Linked DNA regions of Homo sapiens. The protein of the gene in region 4 interacts with the protein of the main gene of each other region in a pairwise test. Each region holds a gene or a part of one and is shown on either strand. Other genes may lie near its edges.

Evidence for each region.
Region 1: the proteins of HEMK1 (region 4) and SOHLH1 interact in binary tests that used the Homo sapiens proteins (3 or more experiments, as listed by UniProt).
Region 2: the proteins of HEMK1 (region 4) and ASCL3 interact in binary tests that used the Homo sapiens proteins (3 or more experiments, as listed by UniProt).
Region 3: the proteins of HEMK1 (region 4) and SPRYD7 interact in binary tests that used the Homo sapiens proteins (3 or more experiments, as listed by UniProt).

The regions. Positions count from the first base shown.
Region 1 is NC_000009.12:135,696,450-135,704,020, forward strand, and holds the start of SOHLH1 (spermatogenesis- and oogenesis-specific basic helix-loop-helix-containing protein 1), read right to left. Parts: upstream 3,033-7,571; 5' UTR 3,019-3,032; coding exon 2,954-3,018; intron 2,678-2,953; coding exon 2,546-2,677; intron 2,028-2,545; coding exon 1,880-2,027; intron 1,179-1,879; coding exon 1,057-1,178; intron 357-1,056; coding exon 163-356; intron 1-162. UniProt on the Homo sapiens protein: Transcription regulator of both male and female germline differentiation. Suppresses genes involved in spermatogonial stem cells maintenance, and induces genes important for spermatogonial differentiation.
Region 2 is NC_000011.10:8,937,050-8,940,022, forward strand, and holds the end of ASCL3 (achaete-scute homolog 3), read right to left. Parts: intron 1,125-2,973; 5' UTR 1,113-1,124; coding exon 567-1,112; 3' UTR 529-566; downstream 1-528. UniProt on the Homo sapiens protein: Transcriptional repressor. Inhibits myogenesis. Plays a role in progenitor cells which differentiate into ductal and acinar, but not myoepithelial, cell lineages in the salivary glands.
Region 3 is NC_000013.11:49,926,315-49,933,348, forward strand, and holds part of SPRYD7 (SPRY domain-containing protein 7), read right to left. Parts: intron 4,821-7,034; coding exon 4,704-4,820; intron 1,772-4,703; coding exon 1,605-1,771; intron 1-1,604.
Region 4 is NC_000003.12:50,572,519-50,579,552, forward strand, and holds part of HEMK1 (MTRF1L release factor glutamine methyltransferase), read left to right. Parts: intron 1-852; coding exon of another isoform or gene 853-1,308; exon of another isoform or gene 1,309-2,182; intron 2,183-4,533; coding exon 4,534-4,668; intron 4,669-4,990; coding exon 4,991-5,055; intron 5,056-5,307; coding exon 5,308-5,357; intron 5,358-6,302; coding exon 6,303-6,408; intron 6,409-7,034. Other genes in the region: uncharacterized protein C3orf18, read right to left, coding at 853-1,308. UniProt on the Homo sapiens protein: N5-glutamine methyltransferase responsible for the methylation of the glutamine residue in the universally conserved GGQ motif of the mitochondrial translation release factors MTRF1, MTRF1L, MRPL58/ICT1 and MTRFR.

The DNA.
Region 1 (7,571 bases), on a different chromosome or scaffold from region 4:
GAATCAAGCTCATCCCTCAACACGTGGGTTTCTCACCAACACAAGGGCCTGGGAAAACTTCGAACCCCGTTTGCAAACAGCCCCCATTGTTCTTAGGGCTAAAGCACAGCCTGGCGCCGCTCCCCAGGCCAAAGGCACCCCACATGCACACCCAGGACTCACCTGAGAAAGGGGGCAGCCCACCCCGCACCTGGCACAGCCCCAACAGTGCCTCACACTTGTCCGTGCCCAGGGACGTGCAGCTCGCGGGGTCCCACTGCCTGGAGGACGCAAGGATGTGCGGCACGGGCTCTGGGCTGGCCGACGCTGGATCCAGGGACCAAGGACTTTCCAGAAACGCCTTCACATCTGGGGTTCTAGAAGGAGCAACATGACAAGGATCCTGGGTCTATTCCCCAGCCCCCTGGAAGGCTGCCCCCACCCACCCCAAGAGCAGAGGGCTGGACCCATCCCCAGGACACCCCAGGCACCACCCAGCATCAAGCCAGCCTCTGCCCAGGGGCCCTGGGCCAGCCAAGCTCCACAGCTGTCTACCCAGTTTCCCTCTGCCCAACTCCTCCGGTTCTAGATTCTTCCACAGCTAATTAGCCACCAGTCCCATGCCCCAGCCTGCTTTGGGGTAAAATGGGTACATTTAAACACAAGATGCAGACAGTCCTTCAACCTGGGGAGCTGCCATTCTGAAAAGAACCAAATTATCTTGACTTCAGAAAACTGCATTCCTGAAGCTGCCCATGGGGAGGAGTATGACACCTCACTGACCACCTGTAAATTCCCCACACACAGGAGCAGAAGAGATCCTCCCGGGCACCTCCCACCTCCACACCAGCCCAGGCCCTCAATTCTGCTGACCGCGCTCCCCCCTTGCTGGAGCTCGCCCATGTTGGTCACCTCACACCTGGCCACCTGAGTTGGCAGGGCCCTGGGCAGGTCACCACCTGCGGAGGCCAAGCCGGGCCTCCAGGCCACACCCTCCCGAGGACATGCCAGGGGGCTTTGGGTCTGCTGCTCCCAGGGTCACCCAGCCCTGGAGAGCGGGCCCCAGGAGACACTAACCGAGTCCCGCTGGACGCTCCCGTCCCAGGGTCTGGCACACCTGCTTGAATCTGACTCGACAACGTCAACTGTAAAACATCCTCCTGCAACGAGTGCCACATTTCCTTGGAGGAAGCAAGAATCTGAAATTTAAGTAAACATGTAAAACAAAGACAGAGACAGTCAGCTGAGAAACCCAAGACACGGTGACAAGACTGCTACCCCAGGGCCTGGAGGGTCACTGTGAGCTCGGTCCCCGCTTGGAACTTGGGGGCGAGAGTACAGGTTGACAACGAGGCTGAGGTTCCACCCCCGAAAGGCCCCACCATTCCTGAATCAGGCTGTGCATACCCAAGGGCCTCACTGCAAATGCTGGGACCCCTGACCTCACAGATGACAACACAGTTTCATTCCCCACACAGGTCCTCAGCCCCAGCACTCACGGGGTCAGCCAGAGCCCCCAGAGCCTTGGAGAGGGGAGAGGAGCCTCTCTCTTGGAGACGTGCAGAGAAATGATCTAGGGGGTGCTCAGCCAGGGAGGATCAGGAGACCCCAACTCTCCCCCAAATTGGCACGGAGCATCTCGGCAACCCATCAATGAACAGGACTCAGGGGCACAGGAGGGCTGGAAAGGAAGGCTTGCTCCTTTCCAGGAACAGAATAACAACAGGTAAGGCTTGAACAAATCAGGAAGTGCCCTGCCGAAAACGTGGCCTGCTCTAGCCGTGGAGACCCAGAGGGCTGAAGGAGACGGGGATGACAGGGGACACACTGCCTGCAAGGTGGTGAGATGTCCCATCACCGTGATGCCGGAGGACTGACGGCGTCTACCCTTACAACTCACAGCGTGCTGCTCCTGACTGGGCCCCAGGGCGCTGGCAAGCCGCAGGAACTGCACAGACATCTCCAGGACCGAGGCCATGTCCTCCCGCCGGCCATCGAACTGGGGCAGCAGGGCCCGCAGACGCTCACAGCTCAACGACATCCGCTTCCTGGTTCCGGTCAAGAAACAAATACCTCTGGGCCCTCCTGCCCTCCCCGAGAAGGGACAGCAACTGCTAGAACCTGCCAGATAGACCCTGGGCGCTTGTCAGGCAGAGGGGGCTACAAGATGACTCAGAGCTGCCCCCGTGGTCTGAAGCCCCGAGATCCACATCAGAGCACAGCCTGGGCCTGACCCCTGGACCTCGGCGACAGGCTGTCCAGCCCAGGCCCAAACCATGGCTGCTTTGCGGTGTGGAAAAGACAGCGAGGGTCAGAGGCAGTCAGAAGCACAGAGGGTCACAGGTGCACAGCCTCAAGAGGCCAAGGCTTCAGGATAAAGAGGGGCTGCAGGATGTTCCCCAACAGGGCTTTTCTGGTTTACTTGGAGATGTGCAGTCTGTCCTTCTCCTGGGCACAGGCCACGAGCCCCTCCCAGCTGCCTGACACCTGGTGGCAGCCCCGAACATAATCTCACCCGCTCCACCCCTTTACAGCGCCCTCACCCCTGGGAGGCACCACCACTCACCTGCGCTCCCTCTCGCTGATCACGTTCCGCCGAAGGCAGGAGCTGGGACCCTCGGCCACCGTAGGGGCCTTGGGCGGGCCCGAGCCCCGGGCCGAGTCCTCGCAGCAGGAGAGGGCACCAGACAGGGAGCCGCTGCCGAGAAAGCCAAGAGCACCGGGCCCTGAGAACCCCAGAAAAGGCCACCAGGAGTCCCAGATGCCAGAATGGGCGTCTTTGGGGTGCGGGTGGAAGCCAAGACTGGGTCACGTAGGGACACGGCCCGGCCCTCTCTGCACCCCTTCCCCTCTCCCAGGGTCCAGGGCTCCGCCCCAGGAGGCCCAGGATGGGTGGAGCCCAGCAACTTGCGGAAGAACCCCTGGGTACAGGCCTTGGGCCCCCAACCCCTTGGCCGCCAGCCCAATTCCTCACTTGCATCCCCTGACGGTAGGGATTCTGGAGACCTCCGGGTAGGGCTCGGAGCACCGGGACGCCATGAACTCGCAGCTGCGGAGCGACCCCACGCGCACGGCCCCTTCCGCAGGCAGCCCCGCCCCCTCACGTGTGCTCTGCCCACCTGCCACGTGCTTTCCACCTAGCCCACCCCACCCCCACTTGCAATCCGCCCCCATAGCGCATGCGCTCTAGCCCTCCCCACGCAGCCAGCCCGGGGCCCACGTGACCCGCGTTCCTGCAAAGAAGGTGCTGGAAAGGGACTCGGGGGGTCCACCCACTCTATGCCCCCGCAGGACGCCAGGGGAAGGGGCCCCAGCCCAGGTGGCCCTGCCTCTACCCTTACCTTCCCGGGGGTCGCCTCGGTTCCCACTTATGCGGTGGTCTCGGTGCCCTTGGGCACTTTGGAGATGCGGGCTCTGCCCTTAGGAGCCCAGCCCCTGGTGGGAGTGGGCGGGCTGGGCTGAGTTGTTTAGCCCAGGCCTGGGGGACCCAGGGACACAGGGAGGGGGAAGGGTACCCGCCTGCTCCCCAGTCGCCCACGCCTCCATTTTCCCCCAAATCTAGTACGCTTGCAGACGCTGCGCCTCAGGGTAGGGTCACCATCCACACTTCTGGGTCGCCCAGAACCAGGGGCATCTTGTCCCCACCCCAGGCCACCATCGTCCGTGCTCTTCCTCCCGCTGAGCTCTGCCGGGCACCCTCGGAACCGTCTGTCCCTTCACCTGGCCCTGCCCAAGCACCATCCCCGCTTTATGCCCTGGGGCCCCAGCTCGACCCCTCACCTCACACTCTCAACAGGTTTCTGCGGGATCGCGGGGGTCCTGCCCATCCAAATTCAGAAAGCTCCGGCGCCAGGTGTTTGCTCACCTCCCCGCTGAACTCCAGGAGCCGCCCTGCGCTGGGCTTGAGTCCCCCAGTACATACTTTTGGGGGGATGACGGAGGGAAGGGGGAGGTGGAGACCCTTCCTCTTTCACGGAGGTTGCGGGGGGCCCTCAGGGAAGCAGAGGGGACGAGGGTGGGGGGTGAGGCTGGACTGTTGGGAGGACATCCCTGGCCTGGCTCGTGCTGAGGTCGTAGCGGGAGGAGGTGGGGTGGGTGGCAGGGGCTCTCCTCCCGAGAGGGGAGGCAAGAAGGAGCCCGGGCAGGTGCCACCACACGGGGACGTCTGTCCGGGGTGCCCCAGTCTCCTGTGGAGAAGGCGCGGCTCTGGGCCTCGGGCTGGCATCCTGGACTTTGGGCCAAAGATGGGTGAAGGGTGTTTGGAGCAGAGGGAGGTTATGTAATATAAGGTGGTGTCTCCATCCCTGCTCCGCCCAGCCTTGGCTGCAGGTCAGACATGGAGGAGGACGGGGTTGGAGAGGAGGGCAAAAGCTCTCGGGGACCTGGGCCCCTCTCCCGGCCCTGCCCCTGGCCAGGGAGGGATGGACGGGCTGGCGATCTGGGGCTCCTCAGTGGCAGAGTGGGGCCAAGTTTTTGTTTCCCTAAAGCCCTCGGAATGTCATCAAACCTGTGACTCTCCTGCCGTTGACAACACGTGTAATTACTGCTAATTAATCACAGATGCAGATGGTGCGGCCTCTCAGTTTTTTCTGAGTTCCCCAGGCAGGAGGGCGTTGGCAGAAAGGCCACCATCTTGCCCCGGCGGCACCCGCCCAGGGGTGGTGGGACCCCGGCAGCAGCACCGGCCAATCTAGGGACCTGAGGAAAAACCCCCAAGATGCCCACGAGCTGTGTGGCGGGGGCACAGGCTGAACCTCTGCTGGGGACTTAGCATCCTAGACTTCCCCGAGTGTTCCCCACCCACCCCTCAAAAGCATCTGTGTTCAGCCTGCTGCCTCCTGGAGAAACAGGGAAGGACCCTCTGGAGAGACACTGGGGAGGCCAGGGACCACAAAGTACATGGCATGCGCCCTCCAAATGGACCTGGCCCTCCCCCTGGCCCTCGTGGGCACAGTCCTGGCTTAGTGAGGGGCCTGGTCCACCCTGCAAACCAACAAAGCTCTGGGGACAGAAATCGCAGTTCTCCAGAGCTCTGTGTGAGGCTGAGCCAGGGTGACGCATGTGTAACAGTGTGAGCACGTGCACGGGAAAGGGGGCCCGCAGGGGGACCCTCTGCTTCCTAGTCTTTGGCCTGCAGCATCTTAAGTTGGGGCCCCTCCCCACCCGTCTAAAGGTGCTGTGTGTGCCCGTCTGGGTGAGAGCACAGGGCGGGGTGCAGTCATCCCCCTCCCCCAGGCCAAGCCCAGGATGTGGCGCCCACCCACAGATGCCGCAGCCTGCGGGGGGTGTGGGGGCGGGGGGGCGGGGAGTCGTCTTGAATCTGGCTTGTGTTCAATGACCAGTGTTGACCACGGCAGAGCAGCACAAGCGGGAGGTGCTGACGGTCCCTGGGCGCAGCGGCTGGACGCTGGCGGTCCGAGCAGCGCATGTGCCCTGCTGCCCGCCAAGGACCCAGAGCCCCCTGAGCCCCCGCCCACCACGGAGCCCTCCCAGGGGTGTAGGGCCCGGTGGCGGCGCGCTTGGGCTTTTCTAGCCATTGACGAACCCCGTCCTGTTTTTCGGAGTTTTGAGGGCTCAGAGGGCCGCGGCGGGAGCGGATCGCCCTCCCTACCCCGCACCCCCGTCCCAGCCTGGGCCAGAGCCGCCGCGGGTCCCGGCGCGGCCGGCAGGGGGCGCGCGCGGACAGACGCCTGCACCCGACCCTGGAACTGGCGTCTTTTCCTCGCTAATCTGCGAGGAAAAAAAAAATGTTTTTCAGGGCAACGCGAGGGAAGAAGGTGGCGGCTCCCACTCGCTTCTCCCTCGGGTCGGGTCCGAGCTGCCAGGCCGCATGCCACTCCCTGACGGGGCGCGGACCCCGGGGGGCGTCTGCCGGGAGGCGCGCGGCGGGGGCTACACCAACCGGACCTTCGAGTTTGACGACGGCCAATGCGCCCCCAGGTACAGTCTGCTGCGCCCTCCCCACGCGGGGAGGCCCCGGTCTAACCTAAGACCCCCAAGTTCCCCCTCAGGCTCCCGCACCCTCCAGGACCCGCCATTCCCAGGGCCATCCAACTTCCCCAGGACCCGCGAGTGCCCTCCCAACCACCTTGGGGAACAGGGGCGCCCCTCAGGGTGGGCCGCACTAATCAGCAGGTGCCGAGGCAGCAGCGTCCGTCCCCATCTGTCCTCGACCTGGTAAGAAGCTGGGGGGAGCGGCCGTGGCTACATGGGGGTCCTGAGCATCTCCCAGGTGTGGGGAGTGGCAGGGAGGCTGGGGGCGGTGCAGGGCCTTCCATCTCCCCCAGCCCCTGCCCCACCCCAGCTTGGGGAGGAAGGTTCCATCCTTCTTGTGTGGCATGGCAGTGCTCGGCCAGGGTGGGGTGCCCGGCGAGGTTACCCCACACAGTAGGGGGTTTCCAGAGCAACCTTCCAAGGAAGAGTCCCCAGTGGGAAGTGGGCTAAGTGGCTGTCAGATGAGGGCGGGAGTCCTGGGTTCTGGTCACTCCTCGTTCCCCGCTGGCCTATCCCTGGGAGGAGAGGGCCAGTTGAGAATGGCATTCAGGTGACCTGGAGCTAGCTGTTCCCTGTGCAGTGTCCTGGGATGCCATGCGTCTGCCGTCCACCCAGTGACCAGTGCAGAGGCACGGACCGGCAGCTGAGTGGGACAGTCCTGAGCGGAGGTTGCCCCAGGGTCCAGGTTCCCCATCCTCTCCCCCATCCCTCAGCTCTTGAAAACAGGCAAGTCTGCCCCTCACCCTGTCCCCAGAGCCAGACTCCAGGGAACCCTGGGCAGAGCCGGTCACTGCCTTGGGCGAACCCCTCCCCACCAGGACAGAGCCCTTTCTTCTGGATCCTGCCCAGTCTCAGGCTGTCCTGAGGCCAGAGAAGGGGGTGGAAGAGCATACCTGAGAGCGGGAGGCCTGGTGCGGCTGCCTGTTTGTTCTATGGGACTCAGTTTCCCCGAGTGTAAAATGAGGAGGTAGGGCGGATGGTCTTTAAGGGCTGCCTCTGGTGAGGGACCAGGCTGGAGAGGAGGTTCCCAGAATCAAGAGGCAGGCACAGCACCCACCTGGCACCCGGGGGAGTCCGGGGTACAGCGTGTGTGAGGAGCAGGTGCTCTGAGGGTGGACAGTGACTTGGTGATGTCCTTGGGAAGTGGGCACAGCCTGGACGTGCTCTGAGGGACTATCCGGGGGATGCCTGTCAGGCACAGAGAAAATGACCCCAAGGGGGTCCTGGATTGCCCTCATCTTTGTGGGCTGGCCGGCCCCTACCATCTCCCTCCCCAGCCTAGCGTTGCCCTCCCTGGCCATTCTGCTGGAGTTTATCACCTACCCTGCTGGGCCTGACCTGCTCCAGACGAGCCGGCAGGACAGTGTCCTCAGGGTCCAGCCTTTAGCTCCAGGCCTCATCCTCCGGGTCCTTCCAGACACCTGTCTCTCCCAATTGGCCCTGCCCACCGGCCCGGGACAGCTCCTCCTCCCCGCTGGACTGAGCTGGCCTCCGTTGCAACAGAGATTCCCTGTCACACTGCAGGCAGAGCAGCCGCCGGCAGTGGAGGGATGTCAGGCGTCAGGCTTGGGGAGGGAGCAGGACCTGGGCTTGGCTGG
Region 2 (2,973 bases), on a different chromosome or scaffold from region 4:
TAGACCCTATACTAAGCTGCCTGAAGAAGTCTGCATGCAGGAAAATGATGCATCTGAAATAATTTCAAATAACAACAAGGTTTTGTAAACTACTTTCACTTTAGCCCCAAGACACTTTCCCATGGTGGTGACTTCTTGTCAATCCCCAATAAGTAAAAATCTCCAAATGTTGACAAATAAAGAGAAGTTCATTGTGATTGCTCAGCACGACGCTTCAGCGAAGTGACGACCGGCATCAGGTAGTTAGCAGTCACGCTTCACAAGCTTCCGTGAGAGCTTCTCACATGCTCAGCCTCTGGCCGAGCATGTGAGAAGGGCAGGGTGAGACATGCAGAAACTCTGGGGCCCCCTGCTCCCCTAGAGTTCGTGAAAGAAGCAGAGCAGCTCCTCAACCTACATGAGATCATGTTTAGTACAATTGAAGCCCAAGCGAGTAATACCCAGCATAGGTTAGCATTTGAGCTATTTCCTGCCCACATGGAAATTACATTTAGGAAAAACTATTGAATGATGCCGTAAGAGACCCCATTTTGTGATATTATTCATTTCTATTTGGAAACAGCAACTCAAACAATTCTGAACATAGGGTCAGCATGGTGGCTGGTGGTTGCTATCATGGAGGAAACTTTTCCAGGGTTATTCTTGGTCTCAGCTTTATCAGGGTACAGAAGAGACTGCAGGTAGTTAATGTACTTGATCGCAGCTCTGAGGGTTTCCACTTTGCTGAGTCGCTTCTCCAAATACTCCTCTGGCAGATGATGGCGGAGCTGGGCGTAGCCTTCATTGACACATTTCACCCGCTGCCTTTCCCGCTCATTCCTTTTCCGGGTGAAGGCTGGCCCGTAGGAGTACTCGCACCCTCTGTAATTTGGATAAGGCATCGGGAAAGAGAAGGGGCAGGGTTCACTGTAATTTCCCAGGATAAGAGAGTCGCTGGGAAAAGGCAGCCGTGGCAGCTCCTCAGAGTAAGGGGATGACACCGGGGCCTCTGGGTGCACGTGGAAAGTGACCATGGGCTCCAGATAGAAGGACCTGGTCAGTGGCAAGCGGGCAGAATCAGGGAAGATAGGAAGTTTGTCAGGTAGACTAGAGTTGCCTCTGTTGTCCATCATTTCCTCTTTAACCTGCAAACATAACCAAGTTTAACAATGTGGTCAGATAGAGAGCAGATATGATCTACTTTCTTGGAGATCAATGTTTTATTTTATTTTATTTTTCGAGATGGAGTCTGGCTCTGTTGCCCAGGCTGGAGTGCAGTGGCGTGATCTCGGCTCACTGCAACTTCTGCCTCCTGGGTTCAAGCAATTCTCCTGCCTCAGCCTCCCGAGTAGCTTGGGATTACAGGCGTCTGCCACTGCACCCAGCTAATTTTTGTATTTTTAGTAGAGATGGGATTTCACCATGTTGGCCAGGATGGTCTCGATCTCTTGACCTTGTGATCCGCCCGCCTCAGCCTCCCAAAGTGCTGGGATTACAGGTGTGAGCCACCACGCCCGGCCGGAGATCAATGTTTTAAAGACTTTTCTGCTTTGATGACCAATTTCTGAGCTCATGTGGACAATGAGATGGTGTTATAATATTCTGTGTGTAGTAAGAGGATTTTTGATGGTACACAGAAACAGCACTAAATAACATTGAATCACCTTATGAGAAAGTTATTGTCCTTCCGTTCTTTTTCAATCCTTGTGGTTATAAAGATACAACCTTAGTCTGCTGAGAATGTGTCTTCCACACCACACCACTAGAATTCTTTTTTTTTTTTTTTTTTCCTTTGAGACAGGGTGTGGCTCTGTCACCCAGGCTGGAGTGCAGTGGTGTGATCATGGCTCACTAGAGCCTTAGCCTCCCAGGTTCATCAATCCTCCTGCCTCAGCCACCTGAGTAGCTGGGACCATACGTGGCCATCACCACGCCTGGCTAAGTTTTGTATGTTTTTGTAGAGACAGGGTCTTGCCATGTTGCCCAGGCTGGTCTCAAATTCCTGAGCTCAAGCAACCCGCCTGCCTCAGCCTCTCCAACTGCTGGGATTACACACAGGAAGCCACCGTGCCTGGCCTAGAATGCTTTCTAATCCTCCTAAGATCAAAGCCTTCAACAAGCAATAGCGTCTAGTTAGAATTCAGTGTCTTTACTAACTTCTATTTATTGTGAGTTCTAGTAATTTCACATTTATGGTAGCGACATAAAGTTCCTTTTTTTCTTTTTTTGAGACAGAGTCTCGCGTTGTTGCCTGGGCTGGAGTGCAGTGGCACGATCTCGGCTCACTGCAACCTCTGCCCCCCCGGGTTCAAGTGATTCTCCTGCCTCAGCCTCCCAAGTAGCTGGGATTACAGGTGCCCGCCACCACGCCCAGCTAATTTTTTGTATTTTTAGTAGGGACGGGGTTTCATTACGTTGGCCAGGCTGGTCTCAAACTCCTGACCTCATGATCCACCCGCCTTGGCCTCCCAAAGTGCTGGGATTACAGGTGTGAGCCACTGTGCCCGGCCATAAGGTTTGTCTTAAAACTAAATCTACTTGAGTAAGAAACGTGATTTGATTTAAAGACAAAGAGTGAGTAAATAATAGTACAGGTGGAACAAAGATATAATGGTGATCGTGAAGACATGCAAATAAAAAAAGTGTGGGAAAGGCTGAAACACCAAAATACCCAAATATATGCAAGGGAAATTATGAATTAGTTAATGATCATGCAACCTCAGAGGCATAGCCTTCTTAAAGAATACCTGATGTGCTAGAGGCAAAACCAAAAATACAAATAAAAAAGGAATCATTTGCTCTTAAATGTTCACTATGGGACTCCTTTAGGTGAGAAACTTCCCCTACACATTTAAAACATAGTCAATATACAAGTTTTTACATATGTAGAACTGTAAATATATTGAGTAAAGTGCAGCTATGTTTAGGTTTTTAAATTTTTTTATTTATTTTATATTTTTATTTTTAGAGGTGGTGTTTTGTTCTGTCAGCCAG
Region 3 (7,034 bases), on a different chromosome or scaffold from region 4:
CAAAGAAAAACATTTGTTACTGATTATCCTTTCTTATGTTTGAATTTCATCTTTTAGGGTAAACAGGTTGACAGCATCAACTTGACTTCAAGATTCTCTTTCAAGAAATTACCATTTGAATAAGGATGTTCCATATTATGGGCATCTGGCAATGATCTACAAATACAGAACCAACTATTCAAAAAGCATGGGAAAAAGCAGATTTTTTTAATGGCTTATGCCTTTCATCTCCTTTTTTTCTTTAGTCAATTCTGGAAAAAAAACTTCCAACAATTAAAAACTTACAGTTGTTCATATTTTTTAAATTGCAAAAAAGAGAAGAAAGATCAGGCCGTAATTAAAAATCTTAATTTCCACACCTTTCTTCATTCTTTCTAAAATACTGTACCTTTTCATAATTAATTAACCTGGATTTCTCTTATCTTTTCATCTTATTAGAATCCTTCTCTCATTATTCATAGATTCCTTTCAACTTGATATCAGAATTGAGAACCCAAGGTTCAGTGTACAAGGGCACCTCGGCTGAAGGAGACTCTAGGACTCTGTTCTAAATCAATGGCCTGACCTCTGGATAGGGAGGGGTTTTGGATAATGCAGTGTGGAAGGAAGTATCTGGAAAAGACAGAAAGAAATCTTTGGATTACATTTTCAATGTGCTAGCTTTGTAAAGAGTTAAATATAGCCAGTTAGGAGTAAAAACAGAAAAGTCTTAATAACGTGTAACTTTTACTATCCTCTGCTTTCTAAAAAAAAAACTTTTCTACGATCAAGCTTTAGGATTTTGAGTTCCGTTCTCTGAAGAGTTTAATTAGGTTAAGTTTAATGAAGATGAACATTTCTGATAAAATGCTGTAATTCTCTTAATAGAATTTCATAACAAATTAAGAAATACATGTGTGGCTAGGCGCGGTGGCTCATGCCTGTAATCCCAGCACTTTGGGAGGCCGAGGCAGGTGGATCACTTGAGGTCAGGAGTTCGAGATCAGCCTGGCCAACATGGCGAAACCCCGTCTCTACTAAAAATAAAAAAAATCAGCCAGGCCTGGTGGTGTGCGCCTGTAATCCTAGCTACTCGGGAGGCTGAGGCCGGAGAATAGCTTGAACCTGGGAGGCAGAGGTTGCAGTGAGCCAAGATCATGCCACTGCACTACAGCCTAGGTGACAGAGCGAGACTCTAAGAAAAAAAAAAAAAACAAGAAGAAGAAATAAATGTGAACATTTTCCCTAAGAGATATCCAGCCTTAAAAATAACTAGTATTTTCTAATATAAGCTTCAGCAAACTTTTAGAATTGTGGGCCAAGTTTTCTCTAATGTGAGAGAAACAGGAATGTGTGATCAGCAGACAGCCTGTCATTAATTCTCCAGAGTAGAAATAAGGGTTCACACTGATTTTCCCAGCCAGTGGCAGCTCTAAAAAGGAGGGGGCAGTTGAGTAGGGTGCAACATCTACACCAAGTGCTCTCCTGGAAAATGCACCATCTCATTAGATCCAATCCCACTGCTTTGGAATTCAAACCACAAACTCCCAGACAAAGCTGTAGATACTAAAAGCAGTTCAAATTTAGTCATTTACAGTGGAAAGCAACTCCATGAGGGAACTCACCACCACATCTCCTTCCTGCGGAAGACTGTTTGCTGGCAGCCTATTTTTCTCTTCATTGTTGTGGTAAAGGGCTCCATCATTTCTCATCACCAGACTGTGCATATCTCGGCCAAGAGGAATCTGATTCAAGTTAACCTTCTGAGTTGCAACACCAATACCCCAGATTCCTAAAAATATAACAGTTTAAATGCCCTCAAAATCTGAAGACTACAACCATCGAGTTATTTTAAAAGGGAGTATAAACTTTTTAAAGGAAGTGCTGTATTAACACTAAATTGTTTTCTATTACTCTTTTTAAAAAATCTTCTTTTAGAAGTAGTTTGCACCAGCCTGGGCAACATGCCCAAACCCCGTCTCTACAAAAAATACAAAAATTAGTTGGGCATGGGAGCATGTGCCTGTAACCCCAGCTACTCAGGAGGCTGAGGTGGGAGGATTGTTGGAGCCAGGGAAGTTGAGGTTGCAGTGATCCATGATCATTCCACTGCACTCCAGCCTGAGCGACAAAGCCAGACCCTGTCTCAATAAATAAAATAAAATAAAAGTAGTTTGCAAACTATACTATGTTCTCCACAGATGTAGTACAGCCTAGGAGATAAGAGAGTGGGCCCTGGAACAGTGCAAATGAGGATTAAATCTTGACTCTGCTACATCATCTTGCGCAAATTACCTAACCTCTCTTTGTTCCCTTATCTGTGAACTGAGGATTCTAACAGTACTCACCTTGCAAGGTAATGAAAAGATACAACAAGATAATCCAAGTAAAGCACTTGAACAGTGTAAGTACTCCACAGCATGAGAAAGTAAAGCACACAGTAAGTATTCAGAAAATGCTAGCTGTCATCATCATCATTATTATTATCTCAAAAAGATTTTTTAAAAGCTACACATTGAATTTAAATGGCCTGGAGTTCAATTTCAAGCTCTCCCTTTGAAAAGTGGGAATGTACTGTCTTCAGTTTTTACATCTACAATGAGTGACAAACAATATATACCATAAGCAATATCATGGAGAGGAGAAATTAACAATAAGGTGTAAAATCATTTTCTTACCCAGTATTTTAAGCCACCACACCCAGCTAATTTTTCTTTTCTTTGTAGAGATGGGGTTGTGCTATGTTTGCCCAGGCTGGTCTCAAACTCCTGGCCTTGAGCAACCCTCCTGCCTCAGTCTCCCAAAGCGCTGGAATTACAGGTGTAAGCCACCATGCCCCATTGAAAATCATTATTTAAAACTAATTTAGAGCTAGGCACGGTGGCTTGAGCCTGTAGTTTCAGCTACTGGGAAGGCTGCGGCAGGAGTACTGCTTCAGCCTAGAAGCTCAAGGCTGCACTGAGCTATAATCATGCCACTGCACTCCAGCCTGGGTGACAGAGCAAGACCCCATCTATAAATAAATAAATAAGTAAAAATAATTTAGAAAATAAGCCCTAGGGGGAAATTTTATATCATTCAAGGCTGGCCAAGTAATAGTAAGATTCATTTACTCCACTCTCATTTTCCTATTCTCTACCCACATTACTGATGCAGTATTTCACTAGAAGTTTATTTACAATAAAGCTTGTTTTGTTTTTGTTTTTGTATTTGTTTTTTTGAGACAGAGTCTTGTACTGTTGCCCAGGCTGGAGCGCAGTGGCACGATCTCGGCTCACTGTAACCTCTTCTTCCTGGGTTCAAGCGATTCTCCTGCCTCAGCCTCCCGAGTAGCTGGGATTACAGGCGCCCACCACCACGCCTGACTAATTTTTTGTACTTTTAGTAGAAACGGGGTTTCACTATGTTGACCAGGCTGGTCTCAAATGCCTGACCTCGTGATCCACCCCCTCGGCCTCCCAAAGTGCTGGGTTACAGGCGTGAGCCACCACGCCCAGCCACTTTTTTTTTTTTTGAGACGGAGTCTCACTCTGTTGCCCAGGCTGCAGTGCAGTGGCATAATCTCAGCTCACTGCAGCCTCTGTCTTCCGGGTTCAGGCAATTCTCCTGCCTTAGCCTCCCGAGTAACTGGGACTACAGGTGCCCACCACGATGCCTGGATGATTTTTGTATCTTTAGTAGAGATGGGGTTTCGCCATGTTGGCCAGGCTGGTCTTGAACTCCTGACCTCAGGTGATCTGCCCACCTCGGCCTCCCAAAGTGTTGGGATTACAGGTGTGAGCCACTATGCCCGATCACTTTACAGTAAAGCTTTTATTTTAAAAGTTTTCCCATATACAATACAGGCACAGTTAACTAACCTATTATAATCACATAGAATTGCTTTACAGTTCAAGAAACTCCATAAATTTTAAAAAGAGAAATATAGACTGCAGACTTCTATCTGAATTCTGAATTTGATGACTGCTTCAAAACACTGAATCAGGGTATCTTAATAACTGAGTTAAGAGAAAAACTCTGGCTCATGCCTGTAATCCCAACACTTTGGGAGGCCGACGAGGGCAGATCACAAGATCAGGAGTTTGAGATCAGCCTGACCAACATGGTGAAACCTCTGTCTCTACTGAAAATATAAAAATTAGCTGGGCATGGTGGTGCATGCCTGTAATCCCAGCTACTCAAGAGGCTGAGGCAAGAGAATTGCTTGAACCCGGGAGGCGGAGGTTGCCGTGAGTCAAGACCGCGCCACTGCACTCCAGCCTGGGTGACAGAGCAAGACTCCATCTCAAAAAAGAAAAAAAAAAAGAAAAACTCAGAATCAACAGATTGACTTTAATCCTAAAATAAATAGCAAGAGTATATGCTGCTTATATGTTTGACCTTATATGCTTGACCAAACAAGAGGGTTCATCCGGATCCCATTAAAAATACTAGTGCCTTATATTTATGCAGCATGTCTTGTCTTAAAACACTTTCATACATAGAGTTCCTGTGAGGCAGAATGGGCAGCTCCTGTAATACCCATTTTATAGATGAGAAAACTGAACCTAATTTAACTAAATTAACTAATTTACCCAGGATCACACAACAAGAGGTGGAAGACCCAGATCTTCTAAGAGTTTGGTGCTTTTATATTACCTTCTGAATCTTTTTTATGTGTTACAAATTACTCTTAATATTTAGAACAATTAGGACTTTTAATAGTAAAGTACCATTATACCAACCTGTGGACTGGATTTTGAATTCAAAATAGCTTTTGTTTTGATGTAAAGGTGCGCTGGCTAAACAACCTCCTGTTCCACATATTCTTCTTCCATTCTTTACAATAACAACATCTGTTCCTAAACAAAAAATGCAGACACTATGTAAAGTTTTGTATTTTCTTTTCTTTTCTTTTCTTTTTTGAGACGGAGTCTTGCTCTGTCACCCAGGCTGGAGTGCAGTGGCACGGTCTTGGCTCACTGCAACCTCTGCCTCCTGGGTTCAAGTGATTCTCCTGCCTCAGCCTCCCGAGTAGCTGGGACTACAGGTGTGCACCACCACACCTGGCTAAATTTTTATATTTTTAGTAGAGATGGGGGTTTCACCATATTGGTCAGGCTGGTCTTGAATTCCTGACCTCGTGATCCGCCCACCTTGGCCTCCCAAAGTTCTGGGATTACAGGCGTGAAGCACCGCGCCTGGCCAAGTTTTCTATTTTCAATCCAACAATCAGGATTAATTTGTTCAGTTCTAACTCAGTCCACAAAAAATAGGGACACTGTAAGTACTTTGAAATATAGCTGAATTATTTTAAATATTTAATTCACTATTTTTTCCTAAGAGAACATTTATAAGTAATATTCATTTGTATGTATAAGTTTTAATTAAGCATGCTGGGTACAGTGGTTCGTACCTGTAATCCCAGCACTTTGGGAGGCCGAGGTGGGCAGACTGCTTGAGTGCAGGAAGTCGAGACCAGCCTGGGCAACCTTGCAAAACCCCATCTCTATAAAAAATACAAAAATTAGCTGGTGTGGTGGCACAAGCCTGTAGTCCCAGCTACTTGGGAGGCCGAGGTGGGAGGATCACTTGAGCCTGGGAGGCAGAGGTTGCAGTGAACTGAGATTGCACCACTGCACTCTAGCCTGGGCGAGAGAAGTAAGTTTTAATTAAGCAGTTTCAAGTAAACTGCAATAACTCTGAATTATATTGAACGTTCAAAACACTTTTAAGGTAGAAATAGACTAACTCTTTTAATTTTTAGCCAGGAAACCAATTTGATGATTTCATAAATTTCTTAATTTAAACCAAAACATAAACACAAGAGACTTTAGTAAATTGGTAGTTTTCAATTCTATTCAAATGAATTAAAACAATTTACTAAAAGCCACCTGAATGCCTACTAAATACAAGCTACTATACTTGTGCATTAGTCATGTAAGAACTGAAGAGTACAGGGAATATGAAAAAGAACACACATCTATGTTGAAATACCTGACAGTGACAAACTGCTAACTTTAGGATCTTAAAATGTTTATTAAGATAGCTACTTCAATCACATTGCAAATATGTAAACAAGGTTTTAACATTCTTACATGCACTTTATTCTCGTAGAAAATTTTTTAGATGAAACGACATCTATAGATGAGAGTGAGAAAGAGAGACACTGTCTCCTGATGTGATCCTAGTACCAATTTGATTTAGGAAAATGTCTATCAGAGAATATACATAATTCTAACATGTAAGAATACACAGAATTACATAATTCTAATATGTAAGAAATAGCCCATACACCAATGCATAACTCCCCATACTTGTGGCCACTACCACCACTTTGCTGGCAATAACTGTACCAGCCAAGCAGATCTGAATATTCGAACTGTATGGGACTCTTCCAGAAGGGGTTAAATAAAATTAGGTCATAGTAACAAAAGGTTGAATTAACAGTTAAACAAAATTATTTGGTACAAATACATAAAAGAAATGCAAAATTTTCAGATTCTAACACAATTCTAAACTGGTTAAGAGATGCTCTCCCTTAAACAAGGCAAAACTGAGATCCTATTGTATGATTACTAAAAATTCATTAACATCTTTTTTTTTCTAATTAAAAAAGTTAACCCCCAAATTCTGGGAAAGTACCTTTATAAATAATTTGCATCTGGCTACTCCATATACCTCCAGTAATTTCAACTGGAGAGCATCCTCCTTGATGGCAAAGACCATGCAGTGCTTGGCATTGAGCAGCTGCTCATCAAATAACTGATAAAGGTTGAATTAATATGCTGTGCTAAGCACTTTGTAGTGGACATGCAGTATCTGTTCTCCCTCTCCCGACAGACTTCCCTCTGGAGATCAAAACAGTTCCAAGAAAGCTGACTCAATCTCTGCTTCAGGTGTACAACATTTGATCTAGGTTAAGGCAATCAGTGCCCTCCACATTTCTTGGCCACAGTAACTGAGTCAAGAACTGCTACATGACCTAATCAACTACAATCAGAATCTCAGGACTTTTGCAGAGCACAATGGGATATAACACTCTTGGCCAGGCGAGGTGGCTAACACCTGTAATC
Region 4 (7,034 bases):
TCACCCAACCCACAGGGAACAAATGTCTTCCAGCAGCTTCTCAGGAGGCATGGAGGAAGTGGAGAGGGCTCCAGCCGGACACCTGGAGACCTGGTATCAGCTGTGCAACCTTGGGCAGGTCACTGCCCTCCTGCCATCTCTGGGCCCAGATGATGAGAGGGTTAGCCCTCCAGCCCAGAGAATCTGGTGGCCCTCTTAGGTCTACTGACTGGTCTGGTAATCACCTGTGTTGTCCCTCAAATTACTAGGACTAGGGATGTGTGGCGCAAGTGTGTTATCCCTTGGTAAGGCACCCTGGTCCTGGAAGAGACGCTTTATATGGCCCTTCTTGGACTCCCCTCTGACCTTGTAGATGACAGAGCTGGGAGCCAGAGGGCGCAGACCAGGGAGTAGAGCTGGGTGAGAGCTGGTGGGCAAGCCAGAGGGCGCCAGGTTCTGAGAAGGAGTGTTTCTAGAAAGACCTAGGCACACAAACATTTCTGGGAAAGGTTAGTTCCCATTCCCCTGCTGTGGCCAGGGGGCCCCAAACCCTTCTTTCACTTTCTCAGCTTCTGTCCCCTAGCCAAGAAACTCTCTGACCCCTCTCCTCTCCATATCATGTGGTTGGGAGGCCAGGTCCTTGCTTCACTGCCCAGTGTCAGGGCAGGGACAGTAGGGAATCTGAGGCCTTGCTGAAGTCACAGGGCTGTCAAGGAAGGGAGCATGGGGGCAGCACGTGGACTTCCTGACTCCCAGCTCAGAGCCCCATCCCTCACATGGGGCTGCCCCATCTGGGATTGGCATGACCTAGGACACAGTATGGAGACCCAGAGCAGGGTGTGGCCTGCCACCTGCAGACTTTGGGAGGCTTACCTGTGGCTCCTGAAAACACGTGATCTCTGGCGAAGAGATCATTTGCTGTCTCCGGCTTCCCAGGGTCAGGGCATGGTGACTTTTGAGTTCCTTCAGAGCTGACCTGGCACCAGCCATATGTGCCAGGGTTCTGAGTATCAAGTGTGGACTTTGGCTCCCATGTGGCCCCCTGATTCTTGGATGGGTCTGGGCCAAGAGAGCAGCTCTACTGCAAGGGGTGGGGTGAGGGGAGATGCTGCGATTGGGAGGCCAGGTGCTCATCTTGCTGTGCAGACATTTCTGAGAACTCACCAGGTTCACCCCAATGTAAAGCCACATCGGGGGATGCCTTACCAAGAACTCAAGAGGACGTGGCCTGTGGCAGGGAGTAGTGAGAATGGGTGCAGGGGATGGTTTCTGATGAAAGGGGAGTCTGAAGTGCAAACTTGCAGGAGGCATGTGCCCAGTGAGTTGCATTTTCCCTAAGGGTGAGAAGGTGGTTCAGCCCCTGGCCTGGCAGTGAATACAGTAGGAAACTCAGGGCTGGGGGTGTGAACCATTCTCACCCAGCCTGCTGTGAGGCTGTACAGGTTGTGGGAGGCTCAGTGTTTTGTCTGTGATTGGCTTGAAGGAGGCAATGCCACCTCCCTGGGTCTGCCCCACCAGGGATGCCATCCTAATAGAGGGTACTCATGGGCACTTAGGTTCTGCCCAGGCCTTGGGCCAGCCTCTTGATGGGGTATGGAGTCCATGTTGGGGCAGCAGTTCTAGGCAGAGCCAACAACTGCCTGCCCCTCACCTCTTTCCCGCATGCGTCTGTGCCCCACCCTGTTCTTGGATTCTTACCATATTCACCTGGAGGGGGTGCCCTGAGCCTGTGACCAGCATGGCTTTTAGTCTTGCCGAAAGAGCCACCAGCGTTAGGCTGAGGGAGGCTCTTCACTAGGAGGAGAAGAGAAAGTTTCTGGACTCCTTGGGCTGTTATCTACCCCTGCCCCAGGTGGCTCTACAACCAAGATGAGTTTCCGGTGCTCTGGAGTGTTATGGCAAACAAGAGGCCACTAGTGGTGGCAGGGGCTCAGTTTCTTAGCTTCTTACCCTCCCCAAGGTGGCCATCCACATACGTGGTGTGTGTCTTTGAGGTCTTTGAGTATCTCTGTGAGGTGGCTGGCCAGTGTGGCTGGCTGAGGGGTCATTCTCCAGCCAGAGTAGGTCTGTCTATGACCAGGAAACCAAGAGAGGCTTACACACCTGACAACAACTGGTCACCCTACCAACCTCTCAGCTTGTGGCCTCACCACTGAGACCACAGGCTCTCAGCCACAGCCCTATACTGCTCACTCTGTACCTGGCCCAACCTTGCAGGCTAAGCTTGCCACAAGTACCTTAGTGGTCTCCAGTAGTGCCTGGCACAGGGCTGGTGAGAGCTAGTGAATACACACTCTCTCCTGCTGGAACTGGGCCCCCTCACCCACAGGCAATCATTTGTTAGGTGCAGAAGAGGCTTGGAACATGGAGGGTTGGACCTGCTGGCCAAGTTCTGCCTGCTTTGGACTTGCCACCCTCAGGGTGGGTGAACATTGTTGCTGGGTTTGGGGGCCTGGAAGGGTGAGATGCTTTTTGGAACCCAGCACTGGGGAACTTATGTGGAAAATGGGTGTGAGTGATCTGGAGCCCTCTGCTCCATTGGGCCTGGCTGATGGCATTGGGGTGTGGGGGAGACCTGGGGGTGTGAGACTCAGAGGGTGGTGCCACAGAGAGCTTGCCCATCACTTAGAAAGTAGCCAAGAGGGCCAGGCGCTGTGGCTTACACCTGTAATCCCAGCACTTTGGGAGGCTGAGGCGGGTAGATCACCTGAGGTCGGGAGTTCGAGACCAGCCTGACCAACGTGGAGAAACCCTGTCTCTACTAAAAATACAAAATTAGCCAGGCACAATGGTGCATGCCTGTAATCCCAGCTACTTGGGAAGGCTGAGACAGGCGAATCGCTTGAACTTGGGAGGCGGAGGTTGCGGTGAGCCAAGATCGCGCCATTGTACTCCAGCCTGGGCAACAGAGCGAAACTCTGTCTCAAAAAAAAAAAGAAAAGAAAAGAAAAAAAGAAAGTAGCCAAGAGGTTTGTCTGTGGGCCAAGCCCTGCCAGTGTGGGACACACTGCGATGAGTCAGACCTCAGGTCTTCCTATTATGGCGTCTGGTGGGAGAGGCACACCCCATCCTTAGGCTAGACCTTAGGCTCAGGGTGGAGAAAGCCGTGGTAGAGCCTGGCCCAGGCTTGAGGAAGGCTTTCTGGAATAGGTAGTCCTCTTTTCAGATCAGGGAAGCACCCACTTGCTGCCCACCATCCCCAGCTCCCTGAGCCAGTCTTTCCTGAGACCTGGGGTCCCAGGAGTCCTGACCCTCTGGGGGGCTTCTCTGCCCACATCCAAAGGGATGCCTTTGAGAAGGAGCTACACTGCCCTTTCCTTGTCTCATGCCTGGCTACTCAGGTGTCCCACTCCACTGCTGGTTAGAAAAATTTTGGCCATTGGACGGCAGGAGCCTTCCACCCTTTACCCCTACCCTATGTTGGTTTACAGGCATAGTCCTTGCAGGCAGTGGCTGGGTAGGCAAGGCTTGAAACCCTCTTGTTTCCAAAGTGACAGTGTCTGAAAATGTCCTCCTGCTGCCAGGGCAGGTACAGTGCAGTCAGGCACCTCCCTCTGCACCCATGCCTGTTGACCTATGCCTGTGTATGCCACAGCCCTCAGGTCCTTAGTCAGGACCATGTCCCCCCATGGCCCATCTCCTCCAAAAGAGGGAATTCCCTGTCCCTTTGGCCTAGGAGCCTCCCTGGGGGCCTCTCAAGCCCAGCTCTGTGAGGAGGCTGGGGACACACCAGCTCCTGATTCTTGGCCACCATGAAACCACAGGCCAGGCTCAGGTGGGGCCTTGACCCCAGGCCTCAGTTTCCTCATGGGACACTTGTGAGGATTTAACAGATTAATACAGGAAAAACTCTGGGAGCAGGGTCAGGCCAGAGGGAGTGGACAGGAACTATCAGGTATGGTTCTTAGCTTTTTTCTTTTGAGATGGAGTGTTGCTCTGTCTCCCAGGCTGGAGTGCAGTGGCGCGATCCTGATCCACTGCAACCTCTACCTCCCGGGCTCAAGCAATTCTCCCTCTCACCTCAGCCTTCTGAGTAGCTGGGACTAGAGACATCCGCCACCATGCCCATGCCTGGCAAATTTTCACACCTTTAGCAGAGACGGGGTTTCACCATGTTGGCCAGGCTGGTCTCAAACTCCAAACTCAAGTGATCTGTCCACCTTAGCCTCACAAAGTGTTGGGATTACAGGCATGAGCCACCGTGCCCAGCCAGTTCTTAGCATTTCTGTAAGCACAGAATGGGAGGATGTCTGTAAAGGGCTTAGCTGGGGTTGATTGAACACTTAACATGAAACAGGTGTGGATTAGTGCATTTAATCCCCACCACATCCCCACGAGGTGGGCTATCCTCAACTGGGCTCAGATGTACAGATGGGGAAGCTGAGGCCTGGAGGGGCAGGGTGACTTGGCCATGCCCCAGCTGACATGAAGGTCAGTCTGGCTTTGGCTACCTCCCCTTCCTACGTTCACAAGGGTAACTGCTTAGGCCTCTGTACCAAGACCCCCAGGAGCCACGTTGGCACCGACTCTGATCCAGATCCCTCTGCTTCACAGGAACTGGTTGAGTGGGTGCTGGAAGAGGTGGCCCAGAGGTCCCATGCTGTGGGATCCCCAGGCAGCCCCCTCATTCTGGAGGTGGGCTGCGGATCAGGAGCCATCTCCCTCAGCCTGCTGAGCCAGCTCCCCCAGGTGAGCCCCTCCACCCACTCTGGATAGACTGTGACTGACACTCACTGTCCCTCCCATTAGTGCTTCCCCCACATCCCTCTGCTAGGAGCGCTTGAGGGGAAGCAGCTGGATGAGGGAGGACAGGGCTGCCCCTAGCCCACTGTGGTTCACAGACTCTAACGCCTACCACATCTATCTGGCTAGACTTTGGCCAAGAAGAAAAGGCTGTTGGGTATTTCCCTTCTCTTCTGGTGGGGGGTTGGAGGAGGGTCCCCCAGGCCCAGTATCTTCCAGCATCTCTCAGCATTGCCTTCCACATATCCTCTGTTTGTTCTTGGGACAGAGCCGAGTCATTGCTGTGGATAAGCGGGAAGCTGCTATCTCTCTGACCCATGAGAATGCTCAGAGGTAGGTGGGGGAGTTGCACTTTGGGGCCTAATCTTGACTCCTTTTCAGGTTTCAAACTCACCAATGTCTGATTTCTACTCCCAAGAAGGAGGAAGCAGTGGGGTAGCCTGGCATGGGTCCCATGGGGTTCTGAATGGGTAGTGGGCAGTGAGTATCTTGCCAGTCCAAGAAGGGTTGACTATAAGACCTCATTCTTGTAGTGAAGGGTAGGGGTCTGCCCCCGTGCCTACCCCTTTCTCCCTGTCTGTGTAGGCTTCGGTTGCAGGACAGGATTTGGATCATCCACCTCGACATGACCTCAGGTACCCTCCCCTGCATGTTCCTTGAGAGAGGGAGACTAGATGCAGGTGCTGCTGGGTGGATGAGGCACTCCGTGGAGATGGAGGGAGAGCTCCCCCAACAGCCACACAGCCACACACAACACACACACATACACGTGTGTGTGTGCACGTTTGTGGCAGCTCAAACGAAGCCTTGGCTGAGGACAGACAAGGTGCTTTTGCCTCCTAGGCTGACCTGACCCATAAGGGACCAGCCACAGAGAACTTCCGAATTCCTCACAACCAATGAGTTAAGGGCTTGCTTGTTGGCAACAGATAAGCAAAAGCTTAAAATAATGCCTTCAGGACCAAAATACTTGAGTGCCCCTTTCCCCCTGCCTGGCAGGGGAAGTGGTCCAGGCACTGCACAGCTCAGCTATAGCCTTTACAGTGTCTCCAGGCCTCCAACTCCAGTTCTGGCTCCATTGCCTTACCCGTGGGATCCTTGAGCCTCAGTGCCCCCTCCATGGAATGTGATATACTTGGTGTAGCACCTGGCACAGGGTGAAACCAGTAGTCAGAGCCATCAGGAATTGGCTGATGAGGCCAGGCCTACCCTCCATGTACTCTCAGTCCATGTTGGCTATAAGGCTAGTGGAGCTACAGAAGAGAAAGGCTCTTTTCTGCCTAGGCAATCAGGGAGGACGCCCTGGAAGTGGCACTTGAACAGAGTCTTGCATAATAAGGAGGATTTTTGGCAAGGACACTCTATGCCTTGAAATGAGGGGCTGCCATGTTAAAGCATGCACATTCCCCACCAGGCTGCCAGCTGGGGACCCTGGGCACTAATTTGCAGGTCTGGCTTATCAGATCCAGAGGCAGGCCCAAGGTGTGGCATGGTGAGAGGGACATGGTGGCAGGTGGAGCTATCATCCTTTACCTCCCAATGGGTTAGTCCCTACTGTGTGTCCTCTTCTTTGACGACAGAAAGGAGCTGGACACACCTGCCCTGGGGCCCCATGGACCTGATTGTCAGCAACCCTCCCTACGTCTTCCACCAGGACATGGAGCAGCTGGCCCCTGAGATCCGCAGGTGCTAAGCAGGGTGGGCCAGGGAGGCCAGGCCTGAAAAGGCCTGATGGGATTAGTCTGCCCTCGAGGACCACACCATCTGGAGGGACAGGGGAGTTGGTGCTGAAATGGGCAATGGTGTTAAGTTGACGCACTCGAGAGCCCACAGTCCTACCTAGATTCAGCTTCTACCTTCCTACTTCCTTACTTCCTACTAAAACTACTGGACAGCCACCGAACCTCTCTGGACCTGTTTCCTGCCTCTAGAAAAAGAGAGGTAGTGCTCTGCAGGGCCACGGGAGGACTCAGTGACGACTTGAAAGCATCAAACACAGTGGAGGGCTCATACAGGGTGCTCAGTAGATGGGCGCATCATTTTATAGAATACTGAGGCCCAGAGAGGGAAGGTGTCTTGTCTGTGGTCGCATGGGGGCTCAGTGGGAAAGCCGGGACTAAAAGCTGGCCCCAGGCTAGCTTTGTGCCAGGCCATCCTGCTCTTACACAGGGGCTGAGAACCAGGGGCAGCCCAGGAGTCCTGGATGGGGCAGCAGTCATGTTGGATGGGGCTGGGGTGTTGGCTCTCCCTTTCTGGGCTCTCAGGAGTGGTCAGGGCTAGCCCCAGATCTCCCAGACCAAGAAGAGGAGCAG